Regions from separate parts of the Homo sapiens genome. Here all the other regions are linked to region 1. Evidence: fine-mapped expression QTL. A gene starts in region 1. Each other region holds a variant in brackets. All regions are shown on one strand. Distances are from middle to middle.

What was found. PIP is the estimated chance that this variant, and not a neighbour inherited with it, causes the effect.
Region 2: its variant is fine-mapped to the expression of TNS1 in whole blood (TOPMed, PIP above 0.99).
Region 3: its variant is fine-mapped to the expression of TNS1 in whole blood (INTERVAL, PIP 0.99).

What each region holds. Positions count from the first base shown.
Region 1 is chr2:218,001,369-218,004,028 of GRCh38, reverse strand. TNS1 (tensin 1) reads left to right here and starts at 1,034. Exons shown (of 33, transcript NM_001387777.1): 1 at 1,034-1,189. The coding sequence starts at 1,157. RefSeq lists enhancers at 1,589-2,089, 2,090-2,590.
Region 2 is chr2:217,838,474-217,841,133 of GRCh38, reverse strand. The region is part of intron 19 of TNS1 (tensin 1); the gene reads left to right. Among named protein-coding and RNA genes, the nearest start is that of SNORA115, 6.1 kb to the right of the region's middle. The variant T/C (reference allele first, on the strand shown) is at 1,377.
Region 3 is chr2:217,814,326-217,816,985 of GRCh38, reverse strand. It overlaps TNS1 (tensin 1), which reads left to right. Exons shown (of 33, transcript NM_001387777.1): 25 at 1,988-2,074. Among named protein-coding and RNA genes, the nearest start is that of SNORA115, 18 kb to the left of the region's middle. RefSeq lists an enhancer at 2,410-2,660. The variant C/T (reference allele first, on the strand shown) is at 1,139.

The sequences.
Region 1 (2,660 bases):
GTGGTTCCAGACAATGAAGGCCTGGGGCAGACTTTGCTGGATTCCCCCTTAGTGCTCCGTGGGAATACTTTTGGGTTTTGACCCAGCCTCCTTTCCACCCTCTAGACCCCCAACAATTGTCCCTGGGCAGAGGTGGGGGCGAGGGGAGGGGAGGGCTGGTGGGCAGGGGACACTGAGGGGAAGAAATAGGCCTGTGGAATGGTGGGAGGGGAGAACTGGGCCCAGGGAGGGGGAGAGGGGAGGAGGGGGAGGAAGTGGGGAAATGCAAACCAAATGTTGGCCCCGGGTACAGTCAAGAAAAACACACTCTCGCGGGAGCCTGGAGCGGGGCTCCCTTTCAGAAGGGCAGGAAAGGCTGGGACAGATGTTTGCAGGAAAGAAAGAAAGAAGGGGGAAAAAAAAAGAAATAGGAAAAAAATTGGAATGAAACCCACAGCCTGGGGGCAGGGCCATTCTTCCCCAGTCTCGGGCCCTATTTCTTCTGTGTTAAGGCCTGTCCTGGGCTCTGAGCTTGGCGCGTGGGCACCAGAGTCTGTCCCAGTCTGTGTGTGCAAATGCATGTGTGTTCCGAGGAGGCCAGGAAGGCAGGCACGGGTACTCAGAGAAGGGGAGGGGCCAAGGCACCCTGAGTGTGCTGATTGTGTGGGCCTGGGGCTGTCTGTTCATCCATCAGTGGTCTGGAGGGTTCCAGGAGTGAAGGCCCCCAGGCTGGTTTGCCAGGGGCGGGGGTCTGCAGTGAGGAGGGAGGACTCCAGGCCTACCAGCACCAGATCAGAAGACTGAGGAGCCTTGGTGGCACACAGGGGTTGTGTGTCCGGGGGTGGGGGGCACGGCCTGGGGGGGCCCTGCCTCTGGTAGCTTTCCCTTTTCCCTGTCCCCTTTACACCCCCTGCAAAGCAGGGTTCCTGACCCTCAAGGCCACCGGTGGAGCCTGGGAGGAGGGAGGAGAGAGGAGGCTGGGACGAGGGGTGGAGTGGGGGGAGGAGGAGGAGGAGGGAGGGTGAGCTGGAGGCAGCAGGGCGAGAGGCCCAGCAGATGCTGGCGGAGCCGGAGCAGCCGCGGACTCAGAGAGCCCTTCTGCCAGCGCCGCGGGGACTCTAGCTTCAGGGGCTCTTCACAGGCCCTGGGCGTGCCTCAGTGACGGGACCCAGCAAAGATGACGTGGATCTGTCTGTCCTGCATGCTCTGGGTAGGTCTGGCTGCTTTAGCTGCGACGTTACTCTTCCTCAAACCCCCCGCCCCCCACCGGCCCCTGCCACCTTATCCTTTTGCTGAGAGCCCGGGGTCGGGGGGTGTCAGTCTTGAAGGAGGGGCCTTTCTGTCTCTGACCTACAGAAGGACAGACTGACTTGAGCAACCCTCAGCCGGAAGACTTTCCCCACCAACAGGGCCCAGGCCCAGGGTCCCGGGTCAGTACATCCCCTGCCCCACCCCCCCACCCCCCAATGGAGTCCCAGAGCTGTAAGTGGAAGGAGGCCACAGAGAAGTTTGCTTCTCTTTAGAGCCTTTCCTCCCGACTTGCATCCTACAATGGGGTGAAAATTCTTCACCGCCCCCCCTCAGTTGCTGAGCCCAAGATCTTGAGGAGGAGGCAGTGGTGGGGCTGGGGAGCAAAGAATAGTAGTCCAAAATATTAAGTCTGGAAGAGCTGGGCTGTGGGAGAATTCTCAGAGTCCATCCCTTTTATTCCTTCTACACCCAGTTTCAGCTTCCACCCACTGCCATCCCTTCCTCCACAGCCCTCCCCTGCTACCAAGACCTCTCCATCCTGGAGGAGGGAGCCATGGCCCGCTCTTCCCCCTTTCTCTCTTGGCTCCAGGTTCAGGGAGGTGGGTTTCAGGATGGGGATGCCAGGGGGGCCAGCAGAGAGGCCTGGGGGCCACGTGGTGAAGGTTAAAAGTCTTAAGGCCAGACCTGGGCTGAGGCTCCTGGGTAAAGGGGGATGGGAGAGGGCTGCCTGCTGCAGAAGGGCTGGGGGTCAGAGGAGGAGAGGACCCCTTCCTCAGAGGGGCTCCTGTGGGGCTGTCTTGGCCAGGCAAAGGCATGCATGGGGTCAGGAGGGTGAGGAAGTCGTCCCTGGCTGAGGTTACTGTTGGGCTCTGAGAGAGTGATGGCTGGTTTGGGGGAGGGGGCTTCAGGGCTGTGATCCAGATGTGGCCTTTCCTGTCCCTTTCCTTGTTCTGGCCAGTCCTCGGGAGGGCCCTCTTGGCCCAGGCAAGCCCATGCTGGGGGCAGTTGTGGGAACACAAACTCGGGCAGCCAGGTGTCCTCTGGGCAAAGAAAGAAAGGGTGGGGGAGGGGGCCTGGAATGAGGCGGTTTGGGTGGCATGTTGGGCTGGGGTGCTGGGATGGATTGGATTAATAGATTGAGAGTGACTGGGGAGGCCTGCACACAGGATGCATTTGTGGTTTACTGGGCTGGTGTTGACATCTGGGAAATGGGAGCCTTGGCCAGGTTCGTCTCTGTGCTGAGGACAGAGGTAGGCAGGAGGGAGCTCTGCAGCAAGAAGGATGGCAGGTAGACGTCCAGGGGTGACACAAGAAGGATGGCAGGTAGACCTCCAGGGGTGACGAGCTGCTGTGACTGGAGAGAGGGCTCTATAGATCCCTTCAGCTGACTGATACTGGGAAAAGTGCCTCATCCTGGTGAGCCTCTGCTT
Region 2 (2,660 bases), 160 kb after region 1:
TTTTCACTCCTTCTTCATGTGCTATTCCTTCCAAATCTTTCCCACCTTCTTCCTTCTCTCCTCTGTCTTTTCCTCTCCCTCTTCTGTTGTTCTCTGGTTTCCATCTGTTTCTCCTTCTCCTTCCCCATTTCTCACTATCCTCTCTTCTGTCTCCTCACTTACTTCTCCATCCCTCCTCTCTCCAGCCCTCTCTCCCTCCTGTCTGCATGAGCCAGAGCTCACTTCTGCATGAACATGGGCCTCATGCTAGCCTTGGCCTTGCCTGCTGGGAACAATGCCTGGAATAACTAGACTAACATTCAGGGTCCCCTGAGGAGATGCAGGCCTTTGCAATGAGGGTGCTCAGGAGGGCTCTGGACAGTCCAGCACTCCGGCCACCCTGGCCAGACTGCCTGGGCTGCAGGGCTAGGTCTCGGCAGGAGCCAGGCTGAGCTTTGCATGGGGCCACCAGACACAACACAGAGTGGTGCCCCAGCCCCTGCTGCTCTGTCCACTCTAGAGCATGGCACACCCTGGGGACAGCGTACCCCCTCTGGTCCCACTCCTAATCTCTGATCCCATGGCCAAGAGTCAGAAGCCCTGGGTTGGGGTCCTGGCCCTGCCTGAGACCACCTCTGTGACCTTGGGCAAGTTTCTTAACTGTTTAGAGCTCAATTTCCCAGTCTGAGAAGTGGACAGATGATAGTCCTGTCCTGTTGTGTATTTTGCACGGTGGTTTGACATGCCCTGGACCTTGTGGATGCTTCACTGGGGTCACAGTAATTCATTTGAGAATGATGCCGTCCACTAACATCTACCCCTGGCCTCTGGGACACGCAGGCCCTTAGGCGTTGAGCCCTGGCCAGGGAATCACCTCTTCCTTCCCCTGCTCCTCTGACACTGGAGGCTGGGTCAGGGAAGATGCCATGCTCAGGCCTGCCCTACACCATGCCCCTGAGCAGCTCCAGGAAAAGGCCTAGGGGAAATGGGAACTGTTGATTCCCAATGTCAGTTATCTGGTGCCTCCATGGTCCCTTCTTCTCCCAGTCCAGGGATGATCAGGAGATGGCTCTAGCAGACTGCTCCCTTCAACCGCCCCTCCCTCCTTTCTTCTTCCTCTGCCCTTCTCTCAGCCCAGTGGTGGGGAGTGTAGTGTTCAGCTGGGCCTGGGTAGGGGCAGGTTCTGGGATGGTGGGCCTGCCTCAAGGGGAGCTGGCATGGCTTGCCCTAGGGCTGCTAGTGTGATCGCCGTGTGGCTTTCTGGCACCCTGGCCCAGCAGGTGGCCTCCCGGATCCCCTCGCTTCTGGAGCCCCAGGCATGCTGTCGGACACCCAGCCCTGCTACCTGGACCTGAGGAATCCAGTCTTTTGGAAATCGGAAGACTGGAAAGAAGAGC[T/C]GGGTCTGTGAGGGTGGCAGTGGCCAGTCTGGGGGGTGCAGAGGAGGCACATCATGAAGCCTGACACCAGGGTACTCGTCACGTGATCCAGGGGTGGTGGGCAGCAGTGCTTTGCCAAAGTACATGTATCGGTCTGTGTCAGGGCTACAGCTCCCAGAATTGCAGGGTGTGCGAGTGTGCGTGTGAGTGTGTGTGCGTGTGTGTGTCAGATGAAGGGGATTAATTGCCTCCAGTCTGGCTCATGCTAGGGGAGCCTTGGAGTGAGCTGTTGTCCAGCACAGCACTGTCCTGGCAGAAGAGTGACGCCTCCCTGGGAAGGGGGCTGCTCTGGTGCCCTGCTCCTCAGGTCTGGGGGCCTGTGTGGAACCCTGGGGCTGGGATAACTGCTCATCCTGGCAGGGCTGTGGGGAAGGCCTGATGCCCGTGTATGAAGCAGCCCTTAGAGAACGCCCAGGGCTCCTTGAACATAGGGTGTTAGGGTCCTAAAGATACTTTGTTGTCATAAGGGTACCCCAGCCTTCTCAGCCTCCTGGGAGCTTCTCTTCCTTTCTTCCTCTGGCCACACGGCCTCCTGCTGGGGTAGGGGCTGGCCCTAGAGGTTCTGAGGGTGACCCAGTGGCCCCACTATGTACCCCCATCATCCCAGTGTCCTGCTGCCATTTCTGTTAGGCTGTGTGTGTGTGTGTGTGTATGTACATGCAAGCATGCACATGTGTGTCTGTGCAAGGCACCTGCCTCTGCCTAGGTGGGTGTAGGAGACAGAGGCCCTGAGAGAGAGAATGGGGCCAAAGACTGAGAAAGTCCTGGGGTGGAGGGTGGTGGCGGGAGGGAGGGAGGTGGGGAGAGCAGGCCTATTTTTATTATCAGTCAGACTCTGGGACGTGAGAGAGGGTGTTCTCTCCATGACACTGGTTGTCAGCTTGTGTCCAGACACCCTAGCTTGGCTAAGGAACAATGGGGCTCTCTTCTCTCCCCTCTGCCACGCCAGTCTCCCCTCCCATAGAGCAAGACAAGAGAGAGGGAACATGTCTCTCCAGGCACTCCAGGCGGATCTGGGCTTGCCAAGGGGGACAACAGTGGGACACTGTGTTCAAAGAATGTGAGTGGCCCTGACTGGCCATTGGTGCCATGGGGCCATTGGTGCTCTGCAGGGGAGGGGCTGGCCCCGTGGGAGTGGAATGCAGGGTCTTACCCTTCCGCAGAGGGAGGCACTGCCCTGCAGCTCCTTAGCTCTTTGGAGGTCATTCCCTCCATTTCCCTGCCTCTGGTCAGAACATGCTCCCA
Region 3 (2,660 bases), 190 kb after region 1:
CACCTTTGCCTCTACTTAGAAAGCTCATTGTCTAAACACAAAGGCCAACTTTGAACTTGACTGTGTGCACAGTGGCCCTGGATGTTTGAGGCAGATTTAGAATGTTTTGGGCAGCCTCAGATGGGCCCCAGCTCCCTAGATTCTCCCGGCGTCACTCTCAGGTCCTGCCCTGAGCCTGCCAAGCCAGGACACCTAGAATGACCCTGCACTGCCTGTTTCCTGCCGCCCACCGGGGACATCTGGTTCCCAGCCCCTCTCCTTGAAGGATGCAAAACTTCTAGTAGCTGGGACACTTCCTGTTTCCCACCATCTTCCCTGCTTAAAATAGCCTTTGGAGTCAACACAGGAAGGCACGTGGGACTGCAGCCGCCTCTGACAGCTCGTTAAACAGGCCACGGCAGCAGTGGGGCCTGGGGCTTCAGACAGAGAAAGGCAGCCTGCAGCAGTTGCATGGCCCAGCTGCCTAACCCAGAGACCTTCCTTAGCACACGGCTGCCAGGAAAGGGAGCTGACCTCTCCCCTCACACTCGCCCGGAGACAGATCCCAGAAGCATAAGGGAGTGTAAATCATAGGTTGAAATTGACTAAGCACTGGAGACACAACTTGTGTCTCCTGATCTGCTCTCTTAACTTTGCAGTGTCTTTCATGCCAACTTCTGTCTCTGAAGACAGGAGAGGAAAAATGTGGAATCCTCATCTTTTTCTGTTCTCCCTCCCTTTTTGTGTTTTCTTTGGTGCCAAAAGCTGAAGGAAGAGGTTGAGAGTGAGGGCCGCACATCCTGATGCTTAGACAGGAAGATACAGTTTAGCTGGTCCTAAACTGACTGCTAGGGCCTCTTACCAAGGTCACCATCTGTGTGACTTGGGCAAGTCACTTCTCATCCCTGAATTCCTCCTTTTATGTAAAATTAGGCAGTTGGACTGTGTCCTGTCTGAGCTCCCTCCAGAATCTAATGTTCTATGACAAATTCCCAAGGTCTGCAGAGTCTGGGCATGGGTGTGTGTGGGGGTGCTGTCTGCCTGAGAAGTGGGGTGCCTGACATGCAGTAGATGGCCTCTAGATTCTAGGCCAGCCATCACCTGTTTGATCCAAAGAGAAGTGATTTTTTTTTTGTTCTATGTGATGCAGAACATAGGC[C/T]TTCCCTGTGGAAAGTGAGGAGAGGCCTGGGGAAAAGGGGGAAGAAATGGATCTTTCTGCCCTCATCTTCATGGTGGGTATGCTGAAGTTGAGAAACTGAACCTGTGGAGAAAGGTTCTAGAAGCAAGTGTTTTAGGCCATGGGAGAAAAGCTGTAGGAAGGCTTTAGTCACAGTCTTCTAGGGAAAGGGGGACACGGGGTGGAGGAAGGCTTTCAGTGGGCTCTGTGGGAATGCAGTGCCAGGCCCTCCACCAGGAGGTGGCTCAGCCACCCAGATGGCGGGCAGGGGATAGGGGATGGATGAGGAGGCCGAAGGTCCCTTCCACTGTGTTCGCATGGTGTTCGAGGACATCAGCTTTTGATGTCAGTTTCCTGGGGCTGCCATAACAAAGGACCATGTGCTTAGTGGCTTATAAATGACAGAAATATGTTCTCTCACAGTTCTGGAGGCTAGAAGTCCAAAATCAAGGTGTTGGCAAGGTTGGCTCCTTCCTGATGTTCTAGGGGAGAATCTGTCCCAGGCCTCTCTCCCAGTTTCTTGTGGCTGCCAGCATCCTTGGTGTCCCTTGGCATGTAGACGCATCACCCCAGTCTCTGCCTGCACCTTCCATGGTGCTCTCCCCTGTGTGTATCTCTGTCTCCTCTCCTTGTAAGGACACCAGGCATACAGGCATACTGGATTAAGGCTCACCCTAATCCTGTGTGACCTCATCTTAATTTGTCTACATCTGCAAAGACCCTATTTCCAAATAAGGTCAAATTCACAAGCACTGGGGGCCAGGACTTTGATGTATGTTTTGGGTGAACACAATTTAACCCATAACACTTTCTTCCCTTCTCCTGCTTTAGACAACAGCCCGGAGACGCGGGCTAAAGTGAAGTTTGTCCAGGACACTTCTAAGTATTGGTACAAGCCTGAGATCTCCAGGGAGCAGGGTGAGTGCTGGGCTCTGTGGTGCATCAGAGGCCATAGCTGGCTGAGGCCTGCTGTGTCTTCCCTGGGCAAGGAACAGAGGCAAATTCAGTCCTCTTTGTAGCAGGGGGTCATCACAGAGGGGGCTGGGGTTGAAGCTGGACAGTAGGAAGCACTTCCTGCAGTGAAGTGTGGGAACACAGAAGCAGTAGTTGTAGACACCTCTTGGAAGGGTTCTTAAAAACAGCAAAGCCTTGGTTTTCCTGGGCAAAGTAAAAGGTCTGCTAAGATAATATGAAACCTTAGCTCTCTGTCTGCCTGATGTGGGAGGTTTTTGCATTTTACAGGGAGAGAGAACAAAGTTGGGAATAGGGGAATGATTCTCAGGGGAAGGCTGGGTGTGGGACAGGGGTCAGCAACGGCAGCCCATGGGTCAAATCTGGATGCTGCCTGCTTTTGTAAATGAAGTTTTACTGGGGCGCCCCCACACCTGCTGGCTTGCATCCTCCCTGTGCTGCTGTCCTGCTGCAGTGGCAGAGTGGAGTAGTTGTAGCAGAGGCTGCATGGCCTGCGAAGCCTGAAATATTTACTCTCCGGCCATTTACAGAG